Linked DNA regions of Homo sapiens. The protein of the gene in region 1 interacts with the protein of each later gene in a pairwise test. Each region holds a gene or a part of one and is shown on either strand. Other genes may lie near its edges.

What was found. Proteins that work in one complex are often made in the same cells at the same time.
Region 2: the proteins of FRA10AC1 (region 1) and NKAP interact in a two-hybrid assay, tested with the Homo sapiens proteins (one large-scale study listed by BioGRID and IntAct).
Region 3: the proteins of FRA10AC1 (region 1) and SAP30BP interact in a two-hybrid assay, tested with the Homo sapiens proteins (one large-scale study listed by BioGRID and IntAct).
Region 4: the proteins of FRA10AC1 (region 1) and GDPD2 interact in a two-hybrid assay, tested with the Homo sapiens proteins (one large-scale study listed by BioGRID and IntAct).

Annotation. Positions count from the first base shown.
Region 1 is NC_000010.11:93,677,727-93,682,742, reverse strand, and holds part of FRA10AC1 (protein FRA10AC1), read left to right. Parts: intron 1-1,144; coding exon 1,145-1,263; intron 1,264-5,016. UniProt on the Homo sapiens protein: May be involved in pre-mRNA splicing.
Region 2 is NC_000023.11:119,933,752-119,938,009, reverse strand, and holds part of NKAP (NF-kappa-B-activating protein), read left to right. Parts: intron 1-1,327; coding exon 1,328-1,398; intron 1,399-1,578; coding exon 1,579-1,713; intron 1,714-3,452; coding exon 3,453-3,516; intron 3,517-4,258. UniProt on the Homo sapiens protein: Acts as a transcriptional repressor. Plays a role as a transcriptional corepressor of the Notch-mediated signaling required for T-cell development. Also involved in the TNF and IL-1 induced NF-kappa-B activation.
Region 3 is NC_000017.11:75,690,580-75,694,837, forward strand, and holds part of SAP30BP (SAP30-binding protein), read left to right. Parts: intron 1-91; coding exon of another isoform or gene 92-193; intron 194-814; coding exon of another isoform or gene 815-956; intron 957-2,860; coding exon 2,861-2,903; intron 2,904-4,258. UniProt on the Homo sapiens protein: Plays a role in transcriptional repression by promoting histone deacetylase activity, leading to deacetylation of histone H3.
Region 4 is NC_000023.11:70,421,127-70,426,113, forward strand, and holds the start of GDPD2 (glycerophosphoinositol inositolphosphodiesterase GDPD2), read left to right. Parts: upstream 1-2,187; 5' UTR 2,188-2,256; intron 2,257-3,849; 5' UTR 3,850-3,858; coding exon 3,859-3,963; intron 3,964-4,227; coding exon 4,228-4,331; intron 4,332-4,636; coding exon 4,637-4,730; intron 4,731-4,925; coding exon 4,926-4,985; intron 4,986-4,987. UniProt on the Homo sapiens protein: Has glycerophosphoinositol inositolphosphodiesterase activity and specifically hydrolyzes glycerophosphoinositol, with no activity for other substrates such as glycerophosphoinositol 4-phosphate, glycerophosphocholine, glycerophosphoethanolamine, and glycerophosphoserine.

The DNA of each region.
Region 1 (5,016 bases):
GCCTCAGCCTCCTGGGCTCAAGTGATCCTCACACCTCAGCCTCCAGAATAGCTGAGACTACAGGAGTACATCACCAAACCTGGATAATTTTTTTTTAAAGTTTTTGTAGAGATGGTGTTTCCCTATGTTGCCCAGGCTGGTCTCAAACTCCTGGACTCAAGCAGTCCTCCTGCCTCAGCCGCCCAAGGTGCTGGGATGATAGGCATAAGCCTCCACACTTGGCCAGAACTTTTTTGGATTACTGGAATAGCCTAAACCTTTATTTCCCCTTCCCATCAGTGATACTGAAAGAAAGCAGGGATTTGTTTTGACCTTGACTTTTGAGCTTCATTTCAAAATGGAAATGATTCTTACAAAATATGCAAAAGTGGTTAATGCATTAAATACTATTATAGCATTTAGTAGATGTACTTTAACTTGGAAAATCTACTGAACAAGTTTTTTGAAAGTAATCTTTTCCTTTGTCTCTATTCTCCTTGCCAGTCCCAATTTCAGCATTATCACTTTTTCCCATTTAGTATTTCTTTTCTTAACCTATTAAAATTAATTAATTGTTTGCCAACCTTGTAAACCTGCTCTAGAAGAGATAAAGCTGCAACAATAAGAGTATAAATTATAAGTGGCCTGATGTTGATATATGAATTAACAATAAGCCCTTTCCATTTTCATTCCATTATGCTTCTACTATATTCCTTTATTCTTAAGAGTAGAAATTTCTATTTACTGGTGGCTTAGAGCTGTTCAGCAGTTTCTTCTTCTTTGTGTTTTTTTAACATGTAGGTGGATATGGATTATGTGAAGGGAAATGAGGCTTTTTTTTGTAATTTAGTTTTAAATGGCTAAGTGATAGAATATAGAAAGAAAGAAACAAATACAATTATAATTTGTATTTACTATGGTCGTATACAGAACTTATAGAAAGTAATTATTTGTGTCAGTGTTAAGACTTCATTATCTTATAGAATGATTTTAATTAATATACAAGCATAAAATATTTACAGTCTCACTTAACGTTCCTTATTATATAAATCACATTTAAAAAATAAGTATTTTAACTGATTTTGGTTTTTTGTTCATATGATGGTTATTTTTGAAAAGGTCAGTTGGAAAAGTTAACTTTAATTTTATATTGTTTAACACAAAGGAGAAAAGAAATCAAGTCAAAAAAAAGAAAAGATAAAACCAAAAAAGACTGTGAAGAGTCATCACATAAAAAATCCAGATTATCTTCTGCAGAAGAGGCCTCCAAGAAAAAAGATAAAGGTAAAAGGAAATTAAGATAAGGCATCTACTCACATTTGTGAGCATGAAATATAATCTGCCATATTTCATTCATCTAATTGGTGAATGCATTGAGAATTTCATTTTATGGTAGTTGAGAGGAAACTGGCTGAGAATTTAGATATGAACTTAAAGTGACTTACAGGAGTTTTAAGAACTCCTCTAAATTAATTAAGGGTTAATTTTAGTTCATTTTTGGCAGATAGTATAATATTGCCAACAGTTTTCTAATTCCTGGCTTTGTCACCTACAGACTTGTTACTTTGCATCAGTCACTGAACTGCTTTATTTTTCTTATGTGTATAGGGGTGAGGTGCATACCTGGCCTTCATACTGGTCAAGCTTATTGTGGAAACTCAAATAAGAATGTGAAAGGGACTTTGATCAGTGCCTTTAAACAGTCTATAATCTATAAATCAATATAAAATTGTAACACTGATTTTATTTATAATGGCCTGTGTGACTTTTTTTACTAGTTTATGAGTTTCTAGAAATGAGAAAGATTGTCATATATCTGTGTTCTCAGAGCCTAGCATGGTGCTGTGCACCTATACTTAGAACTGCCTGCTTTTTCTTTAGCAGTCCTTAAGCTCGCTAAGACTCAATTTCTTCATGTGTAAAATGGTCTTGATTCCTTTTAGAATTGTTCAGAAGTTGAAACGAGATAATTCATTAAGCAGTTTGCATAGTACTTGGCACATATTAGCTATTATGAAGGTTACTTCTAGTTGCTTTTTTTAGCCCATAATAAAGTAGAGTCAATCGGCTGTAATTTATAGTGAATCAGACTAATCTAGATAGGTAATTGAATTAGATTCAAGCCAATGTTAATATAATATTTGGACAGGAGAGGGCTCTCTTGCTCCAGCTATGAAGATCATTAGCTATGTTGCATGCTTAGAAGCATTTACTTCTTCTTGCACATGGTAATATATTCATTATGTAGCAGAGTTTAAATCTGTGTGCCCTTGTGATACTGTCTACTCCCATAGCTTCAAGTATATGGTGTCACCAACCTTTAGACTTCGTAAAATTGATAGATGGTGAGAGGAAGATATTGTTATTTTATTGCTTATTGAGAGATGGCATTTGTAGCAGAATGCCTTTTTTGTCTCTATCTTAATTATTTTCCACTCTAAGGTAAATTTTAACCAATAAATGTTAAAAATATGTTTTGAGTTTTAAAAACTTATTTATCCTTATATGCTAGTAAAACATTTAATATGTCACTTAAGAAATTTGTTGCCCTCATTGTATTATATGTTCATTCTTATCACAACTGTGATACCATGTTAATCACTGCGTATTCCAAATGAAAGAACTAGTCTCTACTTTATAAAATGTTACTCAGTACAATCAAAGTAGATCAGGTAGATGAATGCTCAGGTTCAGGGCTAAGGTTGGACCCTTCGTATTATGCGTACATATGCACATGATCTTCCTTATAGACATTTTTCCCTTAGTGTTCTGTCAGTAGATGACACCTATGTTGACCTAAAAACTAATATCAGAAATCTGGGGATTATCCTTGATACTTTCTTTCCCCTTATTATTTATGTTTAATTTGTCACCAAGTCCTGTGAATTTTACCCCCAGAGTATATATTTCTCAAGTTCTCTCCACCCTACTACAAACCACTATATTTTCTCTTATAGGCTACTGTTATATTCTCCTTACGGGTTCCGCCTCTGTCTTGCCATCCCACCTTCCCTCCTCTTAATCCATTCTCCATAAATCAGTGATTTCCTGTTGTTTTTAGGCTGATAAGCAAAATCCTGGACAAAGCTAAAAGGTTCTCTGTGATCCAGAACTTGTGTACTATACAAGGCTTGTTTCTTACCACTCTGTACCTCACGTTCACACTCCCCCCATGTAGCCTTTCAGTTTCTGGAAAATGTCAAGCCTCTTTCAATTTTAGGGGTTACATGGATGCTGTGTCTTCTCTTCCTAAAACTCTCAGTTCTATCCCAGCTCATCCTTCAGGTCTAAGCTCTTAAATGTCATTTCCAAGGATCCTTTCCTGATTTCATCCCCCACCTTGAATCTAAATTAGGACTCTCATTTGTAATGCTGTCATGGCTCCTGACACTTTCCATTATTACACATATGACGATGTAAAAGCCAAAGAGGCAGAGATTCTGCCTGCTTTGTTCATTGCTATATCCCCAGCACCCCACTAGCTCATGTTCAGCATAAATAATAATCAGTAAAGGACTTTGAAGATTCTTCAGGGATAGAAGACCAAAGCAAGGTGGAATTGAGACATCTCTTTCTTATGTATTCTCTATTTAGAATGCCTTTGAAAGCAAAGTCTCTAGAAATATAGCTTTTTTACCCCCAACTTCTATGGTATATAACAGAAAATAACAAAATTTTAGCAAACTTTTAGGAAAACCATGTGGAACTCTTTAATATCTTATCTGGGATCATCTAGAATTAGCTTTATCATTGATTTGATTCTTTCTTGCCAGACCACCTTAATTTGGACCAGACTTGAAGAGTAATTAATAAACGCTTAACATCTCAGCTGCGTTTGGACTGTTGACAACTTCCTTTAATTTTATTTCTATCTTTCTGGCCTCTCTTTAGCTAATGCTTTTTTTTTTTTGTAAGACAGGGTCTTGTTCTGTCACCCAGGCCCCAGGCTGGAGTGCTGGAATACAGTGGCATGATCTTGGCTCACTGCAGCAGGCTTAACCTCGGAGGCCCATGTGATCCTCCTTTCTCAGCCTCCCAGGTAACTGGGACTACAGGCCTGCACTACCATACTCAGCTAATTTTGTTGTTGTTGTTGTTGCAGAGACAGGGTCTTGCTGTTTCCCAGACTGGTCTCAAACTCCTGGCCTCAAGCAATTCTCTCACCTTGGCCCCCCAAAGTGCTGGGATTACCAGCATGAGTCATCACACCCGACCTCCTTAGCTGCTTTTAACTGAAGTTCCTTCTCAGTCTTACATTTAGCTGTTAGAGTTCCTCGGGGCTCTTACCTAGATTTCTCTAGTTTCTCTCTGTACTCCCAGTGTAATCCCATCAACTCTCATAGCTTTAGGTTACCGTCTTAGAAAATGTTAAATAAGTAATAGATGGATGAACTAGATAGCTGAATGAATGGATAGAGAGAAAAAATAAGAAAGATCAGTAGCTGACTTTAAGGACCAGTCTGCTTTGGCAGGTATGAGGAGAACAAGATATTTAGGTAGACTGTCTTGGCAAAATGTTCAGAATCTTATCTGTCTCACCATCACCCCTTTCCCAAAAGCTACGTCATCCTTCAGGTTTCTGCTTAGCTCAATTCCTTGGAAAGGCCCTTCCTGACACCCTTCTCCTCACTTCTCCAAATAAGATTATGTTCCTCTTACATATTCCAATAATACCTGTCACTTCTCCTTTAGAAATACATAGTATCCTTGGAATAAATTGTTTATTTTCTGTAAGGGAAGGGACTGTGTGACATGTTTACTTCGTTATCTCTAATTCCTAATAGTGCTTGCTCCCATAGGAGGCATTCAATAAGTGTAGGTGAGTGAATCAGTGAATTCAACCACATTTTCTGAAAGTTGAAAGGAACTTCAGAGATCAGTCCTGGAATCATGACTGAAAGGATATTCTTTAATTTTGCTTTTCAAAGTAAAGTCCTCTGGGCAGCATTTAGGAACTTGTTAGCAACTCACAATCTCAGACCCTTCCAGATCTACTAACAAGTTCCCAGGGCGAATCATATGCACTAAAGTTTGAGA
Region 2 (4,258 bases), on another chromosome or scaffold:
TTTGCTTATTTCTTTTCTCTTTGATGCTACTCATAAGTTTCTTCTTCCCTCTCTGTTTCTGTGCCAACTTTAGGTTGAGTTGAGACAATGTGCTTGACAGGTAAACCTGTAATTTGTGATTGGATAATAAAGCATTATTATCTGAAACTTGTTCTTACAGATACCTTTAGAAAATGCTTGAAGAGGCCAGGTGCGGTGGCTCACGCCTGTAATCACAGCACTTTGGGAGGCCAAGGCAGGTGGATTCCTTGAGCCCGGGAGTTCAAGACCAGCCTGGGCAAATAACAAGACTATTTAAAAGAAAAAAAAAAGAAAACACTTGAAGAACCTGAATGTATTGAATTAGAGTTGGAAGGAACCCTAAAAATAGTTTTCTTTCTTCTTTTTTTTTTTTTTTTTTTTGAGACAGAGTCTTACTCTGTCACTCAAGCTGGAGTGCAGTGGTGCGATCTTGGCTCACCATAACCTCCGCCTCCCAGGTTCAAGTGATTCTCCTGCCTCAGCCTCCCGAGTAGCTGGGATTACAGGTGCATGCCACCATGCCTGGCTAATTTTTGTATTTTTAGTAGAGATGGGGTTTCACCATGTTGGTCAGGCTGGTCTTGAACTCCTGACCTCATGATCCGCCCACCTCGGCCTCCCAAAGTGCTGGGATTACAGGCGTGAGCCACTGCACCCAGCCAAAATAATTTTCTAGATAATATTTAAATTACTCCAAGTATGATCTTCAGAGGAAAAGATTATATGATGTGGAAACTCCTTTTCTAAACTATTGTAGAATTTGAATAATACTCATTTTCAGAATTCTCTGCAACAGAACAACATCTCTTTAGACTGTAGTTTGTTAGGTTTTTGCTCTGAGGAGACAGAACAGTTGCTGCTTTACCATTTGTCTTTTACGTGCTTAAAATAAAATTATAAAGTCTTTCTTCAGCCTTCTTATACCCAGTTTCTTTAATCTTTCCTATGGTTCCTGTTTCTCTACTTTTTCCCTGTGGTTTCTTGTGAAAATATAAATCCTCCATGCTGCTTTGTTTAAATAGTACTATGTAAACTCTAAAGTGTTATGCAAATGATAAGTTATTTTATTATTACAAAGATGGTAGACCCTTGAACTGCACGTTTATGAAAGTAGTTCAGTGCTTGCTTTGTTGTTGTTTTGGTTTTTTTGATTCCCAAGTTCTGCCTTAGGATCTCCAATGCTTGCTTTTAATGGTTCTTGGACAATCGATGCTGTTACTGAAAAATTTGGAGTTCATATCTTTACACTCCATGGTCCATATCTCATCACTTTCCTAATTCTTATAACCATTTTATTTAAATTCAGTTCTGATGAACATACACCAGTGGAGGATGAAGAGCCAAAGAAAAGCACTACTTCAGCTTCTACTTCAGAAGGTATTTTTAAAAAAAGGGTATTTTTAAAATACAAGCTATTTTATTGAGAGATTTAAAAAAATCAGTTTGTAAATAGTTGAACATTAGACTTTGCTTTTACTCAAATTGCCCATCGTCTGTTTCTTTTGATGTTCAGAAATAGTTTTTTAGAATATAATTTTTTAATTTGTACTTTCTTAGAAGAAAAAAAGAAGAAGTCTAGCCGTTCAAAAGAAAGGTCCAAGAAAAGGAGAAAGAAAAAATCATCGAAAAGAAAACATAAGAAGTATTCTGAAGATAGCGACAGTGACTCTGATTCTGAAACAGACTCCAGTGGTAAGAACGCCAACAGCATTCTGCAAGCCTTGCTTCAAAACTAGTTTTACTTCTTAAAACTTATTTTAGAAGAAGGTTCCTGAAAACAATAATAATACTGAAGAGTTTTTGAACACTTGCTAACCTTGTGCCAGGTACCCCAATAAGTGCTTTATATTTATTATTGCCATTTAATCCATACAATAACTGTAGGGTACATCTTATAGATGAGGAAATGGAGACAGAGCAGGTTATAAGTACTATCCCTAAGGTCACACAGTTTGGATTCAAACCTAAGCAATCTGACTCCGGATTGGGATTGGTTGTGCAAAGTGTACAAGGCACATGGCACCAGACCAAGTCAGGGGGTTGGGCTGTACCAAAGTAAGCCTTACAGGGCTGCATCGGCCCAGTGGAAGGGCTCTTTTGTTTAATTCTCATGCCCAATGAGCACCTCTACAGTTTTCAAAAAGGTATGCCATAAAGTGCCTACTTCATGCTGGCTGCCTATTTGTGGAAGGCACCCTATCTGGGGTAGTGCATCACAAAGAGTCTCCTTTTTGTACTCTCTCCTGGCTGATGATTGACCAGAAGGTGCCTCCTCTGAGGTTAACACATTACACAAAGATTCACCTTCCTCTGATATCGCCGAAGTTTCCTGGCCCTCCCTGTCACTTCTCTTCCTCAGTGCTCGAAGACAGAACTTTCAAATATTTCTGTATGCAACACTTAAAAAGAGGCATTTTTATACTTAACTACAACACTATCTCATACAATAAAATTAGTAATAATACCCTATACACCAAATACCTACTTAAAATCCTTCAATAGCACTCCATAGCCTTCAGGGTAAAGTTCAGACCCTGACTCATTTCTCTCTAATCACATATACCCTGTTACACTCTCTTGCAACATCCTCTGTAATCTGAAAACTACTTTCTGTCTCCTCAGTATTCCATGTTCTTTCTCTTGTTACTTGGTAGAGAGGCCCTCTGCCTACAATGCCAGTCTCTCCCTCCATCCAGCTTGGTTTACTCATTGCACCAATGGGCATGCATTACTTTTGTAATCAAAGAACTACTTTAAGAGTCACCTTTCCTGATCAACCATTCCTCAGCCACCCTCCTCAAATCAGTCTGATTTTGAGACTCCTCTGTGTGTCCAGGTTCCCCAAGCTTCCCTCTATCATTCCAGATTGTATTGATCTCTTTACCTATCTGTCTCCTCCATTAGACTGAGCTCCAGGAAAGGATTCTCTCTCCCCTCTCCAACACACACATAGTTTTCTTTCCCTTTTTATCACAAAAATATTTAAATATTCAGAAAAGCGAAGAGAATAGTATAATTAATACCATATACTTAATCACCTAGATTTGGCAGTTGTTGGTATTTTTACATATTTGCTTCAAATATGGGTTTTTCACTGAGATAGTCAAAGTTAATTACAAATATCATCACACTTCCACCCTAAATATTTCTGTATGCATCCCGTAAAAAGAGGCATTTTCCTAATTAGCCACCACACTATCTCACACAATAAAATTAATAATAATACCCTATATCATCAAAACCTAGTGACTTTAATTTCTATGTTCATAGTACCTCCCTACAGTTCGTGACAAATAGCAATAAATGTTTCAATGAGGTAATTTCTTTGTAACAATAAATGGGACAGCAATAGGATAGTTACCTACTCAAAAGTACTACGGTTTTAGAGTTAAAAAATTTTTTTCTTAATTGTAATGTGCTTTAATTTGCAGATGAAGATAACAAAAGGAGAGCAAAGAAAGCCAAGAAAAAGGAAAAGAAGAAGAAACACAGATCGTCAGTTTTTTAAGTTTTATTATGGAAAATTTCTTTTCTTTTTTTTTTTTTTTTTTTTTTTTTGAGACAGAGTCTCACTCTGTCAGGCAACAGAGTGCAGTGGTTCGATGTCAGCTAACTACAACCTCCGCCTCCCAGGTTCAAGCGATTCTCATGTCCCAACCTCCCGAGTAGCTGGGATTATAGGCACCCACCACCATGCCTGGCTAATTTTTGTGTTTTTAGTAGAGATGGGGCTTCACCATGTTGGCCAGGCTGGTTTCGAACTCCTGACCTCAAGTGATCCTCCCACCTTGGCCTCCCAAAGTGCTGGGATTACAGGAGTGAGCCACTGCACCCGGCCAGAAAATTTCAAATGCATATAAAATTACATAAAATAGTATAATGATCCTTCCTGCACCTGTCATGCAGTCTAAATAATTATCAACTCATGGGCAGTATCTGCCATCCATCATTTATTTTGGACCCAATCTCAGATATCATTCCATCCATAAGCAATTCAGTACCTTTCTCTAAAAGATAGGCATTCTTTTTGTTTTGTTTTGTTTTTTTTGAGATGAAGTCTCGCTCTGTCGCCCAGGCTGGAGTGCAGTGGCGCGATCTCGGCTCACTGCAAGCTCCGCCTCCCGGGTTCACAAAGATAGGCATTCTTTAAAACAAAACAAAACAAAAAACTGGCCAGGCACAGTGGCACATATCTGTAATCTCAGCACTTTGGGAGGCCAGGCAGGAGGATCGCTTG
Region 3 (4,258 bases), on another chromosome or scaffold:
AAGTGCTGGGATTACAGGCGTGAGCCACTGCGCCTGACCAAGCGAGCACTTTAGGATCCAGAGAACTTAGGTTGTTGTCTTTCTTCTTTAGGAGAAGCTCGGCACAGTGACAGAGGCACCCAGGGCTCAGCAAGCTCATGGCCCAGCTTGTTGGACTCAGAGGGCAGAAGAATCACATTCTAAACATGATAAGGTATAGCCAGCAGGAGGCAGATTCCCAGATTGATTCTCCAGAGCCTTGTAGGTCCCAAGGGTGCCTATGACACCAATGGGAATCTGAACCAACACAGACAGCACAGTCTTCTTAGGAGACCCTAGTGCAGCAGCGCTGGCCTCCTCCTGAGCGTGCACGCTTATATGGCTTCTGAGCTGGCCAGGCTACTTCATGCATTTGGTTTAATGGGTCCTCGTAAGGCAGGAGAATCTTCTTGAACTTGGAGTTGGGTCTGTGGTCCATTGGTCAGTACTTTGTTCAGAGGCACTGAGGGTGGGAAGGCTCATGGAGCTGGATTCTGCTGCTGGGAAGCTGGGTGGGCCTTGTTTGTGGGCCTCAGGTTCAGGACTGAATGAGAGTCCTCTTGTTGCGAGTTGAGGGTGTACTCTGGGCATGCCATGCCCTTTTTTTGTACTAAGAGGGTAGAAAAGCAAAGACCAGACTAGTTGGCAAATTGGAACCCAACTACCCAGTTTATTTATTTCTTAGGCGTAGAAGGAATAATTTAGGGGGAACTGAAGAGCCAACCTAAAGGAAAAAAATAAAATAAAGGGATAAAATACTTCCTGTGATTTTGCCCCATCATCTCTTTTCTTCCAGAGACGTGACTCAACAACCTCAGCTGAGCCTGGCAGCACACACACCCCACACTCCTTTCCATCTCCAGGTTCACAAAAGCCACAAGAAGCCACGGGGAGGCTCCTGGCCTCTTACTTTACCTAAGGAGGCCCTGAAGTGGCAAGTGTGTTTCCCCTTGAAGAGCCATTGCATGTTTGGTGACTAACTTCCTGTGGCTTTGGGGTAGACATGGTAGACTCCTTGTGTGGGGATTGGGCCTCTGCAGTTGAGTCCATGAGAAGGGGTGGGTGTGGTATGGTGCGGAGCCTTGGGGAAGGGTGAGTGGGGGCTGGAGGGAGAGTTAACGAATGGTCAGTCCCTGTATGATCAGCCAGCTGGCGGGTGAGGGAGGAGCTGATGTTTTCCTACAATCAGCACCCAGAAAGCTGTTCTCTAGAGGGAAAATGTGAGGGCATTTTACAGTCCCATGTATTGTTACTAACACTCTTGAACACTGGTTTCCTGAGAGTCACTGCTACAAAGGGATTGTTGGTCCCCTGAGAGACTGGCAGTCTCTATAGGGCTGCTGATTTATGACTGCGGCAGTCTCTATAGAGCCGCTGATTTATGACTGCAACCTGAAGTTGGTGTGGCAGTCCTCCAGGCGCGCCTCCCTGCCTGCTCCCAGCCTCCTCTTTGCCCACCTGATTGGCAGGGGGCAGTGGCTCGAAGAGATGGGTTGCTAAGCAGCCTGGCCTGGACGTGGTGCCCTGCCAGGTTGAATGAATAGCTGCAGTGTTCTGAGGAATGGGGAATTTGGCCTGTCCCAGCATCAGGAGGGACTTTCTGGAAAGGGGGCTAAGACTGAGTCTAGGTTCAGTGTGGGGAACTGGGTGGCCTTCCTGGCACCTTCCTTTTGGAGCCGTGGCGTGGTGTGCCATGTCTGTGTAAGTGGAGCCTGCGGAGCTCTGCACCTGTCCTCGAAAAGGTCTTGTTGCAGGGTCTTCCTGTCTCATCTCCTCCCTCACTCATCAGCAGGAAAAGACATGGCGTCCAGCAACTTTCTGTGAACTCTGCCTCTGCTGTTTTGATGATGAGCACGTGTGGCCCTTGAGATTGTTGATCTAACTGGCTTTGAGGGGCTGGGTGTCAGCAACCCAGAAATGGGGGAAACAGGTGTGTTCTTGCCATTTTACACTTGAGACAATGGAGGCAAGGGAAGACTTGTGACGGAGGGCTTGGACCGTGGCTTTCTCAGCATTGATTTTGGTTTAGATGAAACATTTACTACAGAACAGTGAAATCCAGAAAACGTCTAAGAAGCCTTTGCTCTCAGGTTTCTGCAGGACATGTGGATGTAGCTGTCATGGGACACTGTTTGCATTAGGGATTGGAGGAAGCTTTTCTTTGGAGGGAGTATAAAGCCAGTGTAAAGGGAGCTGAGAGCCAGAGAGAGGCTTCCTTGAGCCTGGGGCCTCTCTGGGATCCCCATTCTGCCACTTATTAAAGGTTTGCTGCATGCTTGCTCTGAGGTTCCATGAGCTGCCCCTTTATCCTCATGATGAAGCCTCCCTTCTTTGAACTAAAAATAAGAAGAGTATCTTGGGAGCAGCTAGTCTGCATTTTCATCTCGGGAGTCTGCTGTTACAAAGCAGTCACCTCTTGCTTCCTTGGTACCAGCGGTAGAGGTGGTGATGTCTGGGCTGGCCGGGCCCTTGAGCTCTGCACTCCATTCAGGCAAGCTTCCTCAGACCCAGGGGAGAGCAACAGGCAGGGTATACGTTGCCCAGTTGGCTGCAGCAGGCTTGCTGGCTTGTGTTCTCCTCAGCGATGGTGGGTTTGGTCACTGAAAAGGCATGGAGGAGAGACCGGCGTGGGGCTCGGGAGCATCCGGCTGCTGCGATGCGGGAAGAAGAGGGTTCGGAGGCTCGGGGGTGCCAGAGGCCCCTGAAGCATCAGCTTACCCTTAGTGTTCCTGGCAGTGCTTTTACTTTTTCTCCTTCCTTAAAAATCCTGAGTGGTCTCAGTAGAGAGTAGCTGGTTCAGGAGCCCCAGTCTTACCTCCTCGTATTTGTTTGTCTTTTGCAGGATAATACAGAAGCAGAAAAGCGAGACCCCCAGGAACTCGTGGGTGAGTATTGGGGGATCCTGGGGGCACGTTTCTCAGCCTTGCTCCTAGCAGCCTGGCTTCCAGCCATGCCAGGCCTGCCGCCCCACAGGGCTTCTGTCTGCTGTGAGCACTGTTGTCCCTTTGGCTCCCTCTCAGGGCTTTGGCATTTCCTAGGATGCCCGGGTGAGACGTCCAGGGAACAGTTCTTCTTTGGAAATCATATTTGTGGTGTGTTTTAATGGGCTTTGGTCGGTTGCCAGCGCTGTCAAGAGGGAATTCAGGGCACTCAGCTGGGAGCGTGTCTTGGTCTCTGCTTCCCCTAGTGCCCTGGGCTTGTCCTCTGTCTTTGCAACCCCTCCTCCCCCTCTCCGCTGGCATATGCATGCTGCTCAGGGAGTCAGCATGTGGCCTCTGCTGGCACTTTGCTCTGTCCCCAGGCAGGAACATGCCTCACAGCCCTGGAGTCTGGGGCTCTTTGTGATTTGGGAGGAGCAGGGACACTATGTTTCTGGAAAACAGCATACATCATCCAAGTCCTGTGCTAGCCCCAGCCTTTTAATCCTTTTAGAAAGCCCCCCAGCTCCTTTCACGTGGCTCCCAAAGCCCGACCGGGGGGCAGTTCCCGGCATCTGAGTCAGAGCTCTTGGTGGGGTTGGCCCTCCCTCTCTGTGGCAACCATTACCAGCTCTCCTGTCCGTCCTGCTGATCTTCACAAACAGGCTCCTGCCTCCTGCGGTCTTGCCTCGGTGGCTCACTGACTCCAGCCCTGGGGGTTCTGAGCCCAGGGACCACCTGGAAGCGCTGCCCCAGTAGTCAGTCCTTCCCACCCAGGCTTCCTCCCAGTAGGGCCTTTCTGCTGGGAGTTCTGCTACAAAGCCTGTTCTCCTTTTCCAGAACTAAAGGAGCTAGGAATCGTTCATTCTATTTGTCTTTTGAAGAAGGATTGGGTGGGAACACGGTAACGCTGAGCAGCCCAGACCCTCAGCAGGAGGGCCTTAATCCCTGGCCTCTCTGATGGAGTTTCAGTCTTTCAAATCCTATAAAAACCAAGATTTTCCTAAAACCTAGAGTTTCTTCTTTAGAAAGTGACGCCTTAGGGGTGCAACATTTGGCTTTGAGGGCAGAGGAAGCAGAGTGTGCATCTGCTGGGAAGCCGATGGCCGGCCCAAGGGGGCGATCCACGGGTCGGGCGTGGACGGGAGCCTTGGCCTCTTATCCCCGCCATCACCCGAGCCGACCCTGCTGTTTACTGTGAGAAACTACACGGCTGGGGATCAGAGAGCAGCCTGTCACGTGCCAACGCAGAGATGCCCTTGCTCTTGCTAGTAGTGCTGGGCAGGCAGTGGAATGTGTGTGGGCATCAGCCATCTCAGCCC
Region 4 (4,987 bases), on another chromosome or scaffold:
TACAGTTTTATTTGTTCTTCATACACACACAAAAAGGTCAACATAGATAGATGTCCTTATTTTGCAGATGAGGAAACTGGGGTATAAAGAAGTAACTTACCCAAAGTCACAAAGCTAGTGAGCAATAGAGCTAGGACCTGAACGCAGAGCTACCATCCAAGCTTCACTCTAGCCAACTCTCTAGAGTGCCAGCAGCAGCCACTTCTAATGCCCTGCAGCCTAATTTCTTAGTGTAGGAGGGGCGTTGCACCACACTGCTGTCCAGTCCCAGGACAGAACAGCACTGGCTCCTTGCATTCTCCTTTGAAAGATGCTTACGCCTTACAGTCTATCAGTGTTCTCTATCTCTGCTTAAAGCTAAAAGGGGGCCAGCCCTGGAATGCCATACACAAGCTGCTGACTGGCCTTGTAGCCTTCTGAGGTAGATGCTCACAAGCCCTGCGCTTCATATCCATGCATTCTGAATCCCAAAACCCTTCTCCCCAAAAAAGCTCCCAAACCATCCCCAAACACTCAAAAGCCAAGACTCCTCTAGAATCCACCAGAGCCCAAGCAAAAGAAATTGAGCAACAATCTGCCTAGAATGAAGCCTGCCATGGACTAGGTGACCTGCTGGTCCTCCCTGGCCTCCTGCCAGCAAGCAGCCCTGCTTCTCTTTGCATTTTAATGCCGAGGGAGCAAGGGAGCCTCTGCCATTGCCAACTAGAGCCTCTGGATACAATGGGAAGCCTGAGTGGGAGGGGGGCCAGCTCTTGGCATAAGAGAGCCAGTCTTCCTTCTCACTGTTTGAAATCCAGTGTGTGTTGGGGGAGGGGTAAGCAGGCTTATCCCCAGAGAAAACATCCTTTCCCACCAACACTGCACTAATAGCCCCCAGACCTCGAGTCACCACATCAGGCGTAATGTAGAGGGAGAGGTCAACCAAGCCAGCCCCTGGCCCCCATCCCACCCAGACCCCTGTGCTTTAGCACTAAGCAAACTATAGTGTGCTAGCCAGCCCTTCCCTGCTGATGCTGATGCTATAGTAACAGCATCTTTTCTATGTGTTCATCTTCCAAAAGCCTGTGACCCCAATATACTCTACACTCCTCAAAAGATTCTTGGAAAGAGACTCATATGCCTTAGGGACAAGGCAGCAGAAATGACACAAGTCCTGAATGAGCATCTCCTGTCTGGGGTGATGAGGGAAGGTGGGAGAACTGCTAGTGTCACCCAGGATCCACAAGGCCCATGGGGACCTCTGGTCCAGAAACGGCAACTTGCTATCCAGAGTTCAGGAAGTAGCTTGCAGCTTCTGTTGCCCAGGCTGGAGCACAGTAGCACAATCTCAACTCACTGCAGCCTCGACGTCCTGGGCTCAAGCAATCCTCCCACATCAGCCTCCCAAGTAGCTGGGACAAATGACCAAGGCTTGTCTTTGCTTTAAACCTGGCCTTGTGAGATGTCCCATGCAACTACCTAGTCTTTGGTAGGTGCACACCATCATGCCTGGCTAATTTTTGTATTTTTTGTAGAGACAGGGTTTCACCATGTTGGCCAGGCTGGTCTTGAACTCCTGACCTCAGGTGATCCACCCGCCTCGGCCTCCCAAAGTGTTGGGGTTACAGGTGTAAGACACCGCGCCAGGCTGCAGCTTCTTATACATGCACCTTGCTGAATTAGAAGTAGGAGCTCAATAGGGGAGGGAGCCTAATGAATCAAGGCTGTATTTCCAGGGAGCTTGAGACTTGATGTTAGGCTTACACACACGCACACACACACACACACACACGCCTTTCCAGTGGGCTGGCTGGGCCTCTTCTCCTCACTGCCAAGTTGCAAAGTTGTGTGGTCACCTCCCCCCCCCACACACACCAGCTTCCCGCCAGCCTGTGCCCTCAGCCCTCGCCTCCCTGAGCCAGGACAAAGCCCCGGCAGTGACTGGGAGGGGAACAGGAGGAGGGACAGAGGGATGGGAAAGCCTGCACAAAGGAATTCCTCACCCCAAGCCCCCTGACCGCCAGCGAGTAAAGAAGCAGATTTGCTCTCCCTCCCGCTTCCTCCCTCCCATCTTCCCACCCGGGCTGTGCCCAGGCCACAGAGCAGCTGCAGGCCTTGGGAGAGGACCCACACAGCCTCCTGTAGGTGGCAACAGTGCCACCTGTTTGACTCATAGGGCTGAACCGAGGACTGAAAAAGGGAGGAGGCAGACCACTCGGAGAGGAGCTGGGAAGCAGTGCAGAGAGGAGAGCGGAGCGGAGCTGCCGCTGAGCAAAGGTGTGAGGGTTCGGGAAGGCTGGGGGGCTACAGGTGGGAGCTGTGGAGCAGAGACCAGCTCCATCCCACTGGGATTGGGCCGGGGGATTGAATGGCACCCCTGTCAGCAACCCTACTTGGGGTTTTCAGGCTGCTCAGACCCTGATCCCATCCTACAGGCAGCTCCTGAAGGGAGGGGACTCTGGAAGGCAGTGTCTGGGGTGCAGGGGTAGGACCCCAGGGGAGGCAAGAGCTTAGAGCAGGCTATCAAACCAGCTCCAAGATGGGCAGAGGCAAGGGCTTCCCTTTGGGTTGGCTTTTTACCGGGAAGGGTCTCGTAGAGGGGAGGGGTTTCCTTCCCCCAGCTCCAGCTCCTCACCCCTACCCTAACCCTCCTTTCCCAAGGCAGCATAAAGAGGGCAGTTCAGAAGCAGCCACACCTTCCTGCTTACCGGACCCACCCACTGTGCACCCCTCTAAGACTCCATAGCCTCGGGAGAGCTCTGAGGACAAGAGGTCCTGTCCCTCAGCCCGCACGCACACATGCTCACACACTTTGGGTGTATCCAGGGGCTCCTTTACATACTCAAAGTCACCTAAAATCATATTGTACCGACAGCCAGTTGTGCTGTCGCGTGCAAATGCTGACACAAATCACATACCGTCTCGCGTAGAATCAGTCACGTACCCAGCCAAGTCTGGGGATCAGCTCAGTCAGCCAAACCCAGAAGCATAAGGTACAGGGGTCCCCTGCCCCAAGACAACCACACCCCGCATACACACCTTTGCCCTGCGTTTGTTGTACTTTCACCAAAGCTAACTTAGAGGGTGGGGCTCCTAAAGGCGAGTCTGGGCTTCTGGTTGGGGTTGGGGGATGACTGGGCAGGAAAGGGCAGGACTTGAGGGGAGGCTCTGTATTTTGAAAATCCAAAGATTCCTTTAGAAGACTGGGAGTGACCCAGGCAACATGTTCACCTCAAGTCTTTCTCTTTTTGGCAGTGCCCTTTGTCCCCTGAGAGGTGGACACAGAGAATCTTTCAGGGATTTGTGATCTGAATAATCTCTATAACCATAGCAACTGGCCAACTAGCTGGGCCTTCCTTAGCCCCAGGTCAGAACTGTAACCTTTGCTTCAGGTTACTCCTGCTTCCTGGGCTGGAAAGCAATTCAACATGGGGTTGCCTCCAGCTTGGCCAAACCTGCTTTAACTTGCTGAACTGAGTTTGTCCCACCCTGGGCAGTTTCTCTTGAGTTCTTACCCCCAGGGCAAGCACTCCATCCCCAGAGGTGTGTGCTGTTAAATGGGGAGGAGCTGGAGAGAGTGGATATGAATCCTGCCCGAAAAGAGGCTGGACCTCTTGGGTGTCCCACTGACTCTCCAGGTAACAAGATTAAAGGGAAACGAAGGCTCTGGAGACTGTCTCCCATTGCCAGGCTTGCAGCTGGGGCTGCTCGCCTCATCCACTCTGGCACTCTGGGCCTGCCCCGTGACCTCCGTTGCTGAGCAGCGGCCCAGGCCTCTGCCTCTCCCCCGGGCTCCTCAGATACACTAGGAGGGAGACTGGGATCTGCCCTCTGCCAGGGTCCCTGATGGTCGAGTGTCCCTTCCCCCAGGCCTTCACCATGGCCGAGTCCCCCGGCTGCTGCTCCGTCTGGGCCCGCTGCCTCCACTGCCTGTATAGCTGCCACTGGAGGAAATGCCCCAGAGAGAGGATGCAAACCAGCAAGGTGGAGTAGGGATGGAGGGGGGAGGCTGGAAGTCAGAAGGCAGAGGCTCACTGGAGGGGATAAGGAGGCCAATTGTGCTCATAGACAGCTTGGGGGAAGGGGCTCTCTCTCCCAGGAAGAAAATCTCCCTCAAATATGGAAAGAGCTGCCCCCCGAGCAGAGCAGCCCAACACGGGGCAGGCAGCTCCCTTTAGCTGCCACCCGTTGGGGACTCTGAGTTTGAAGTAGGTATTGGTTGTGAGTTTCTCTCCTGCCCCTTTGCAGTGCGACTGTATCTGGTTTGGCCTGCTCTTCCTCACCTTCCTCCTTTCCCTGAGCTGGCTGTACATCGGGCTCGTCCTTCTCAATGACCTGCACAACTTCAATGAGTGTGTCATGGATTCCCCCTGCTTCCCCAGCATACCTGTCAACCTGCTCCCCACCCTGGGACCCGGGGGTGGCCCACTGTCAGTCATCCCCCAGCCCTGCCCAGCTGCTCAAACCCAGCTCTGCTGCTACCCAATCTCCTTAGAAAATCCCTCCACAAAATCTCCTCAATCCTTGGAGCCCCTGGCCACGAGGGGCTTTCTCCTCACTCCCTTCTAGTCTTCCTGGATCCACCCACCCCACCTCCCCTCAGGCCACTATTGACACCCCTTCCCCCACTTGGACACCTCCCTCTCCCCTCCCACAGATTCCTCTTCCGCCGCTGGGGACACTGGATGGACTGGTCCCTGGCATTCCTGCTGGTCATCTCTCTACTGGTCACATATGCATCCTTGCTATTGGTGGGTCCGGAGGCCGCTGGCCTAACCCCACCTCAGCCTTCCTTCCTGCTTAGTTTTAGCTCCCTATTCTCATCCTGGCCACTGAGGGAGGGGGCTAATTCTTGGGTAGGAGGGAAGTACCAGCCTGGGAAGCCCACCTCAGTAACCTTGCTCCCCTCTTGGCACCCCATAAGTCCCACTGCTCTCTTCCTCTAGGTCCTGGCCCTGCTCCTGCGGCTTTGTAGACAGCCCCTGCATCTGCACAGCCTCCACAAGGT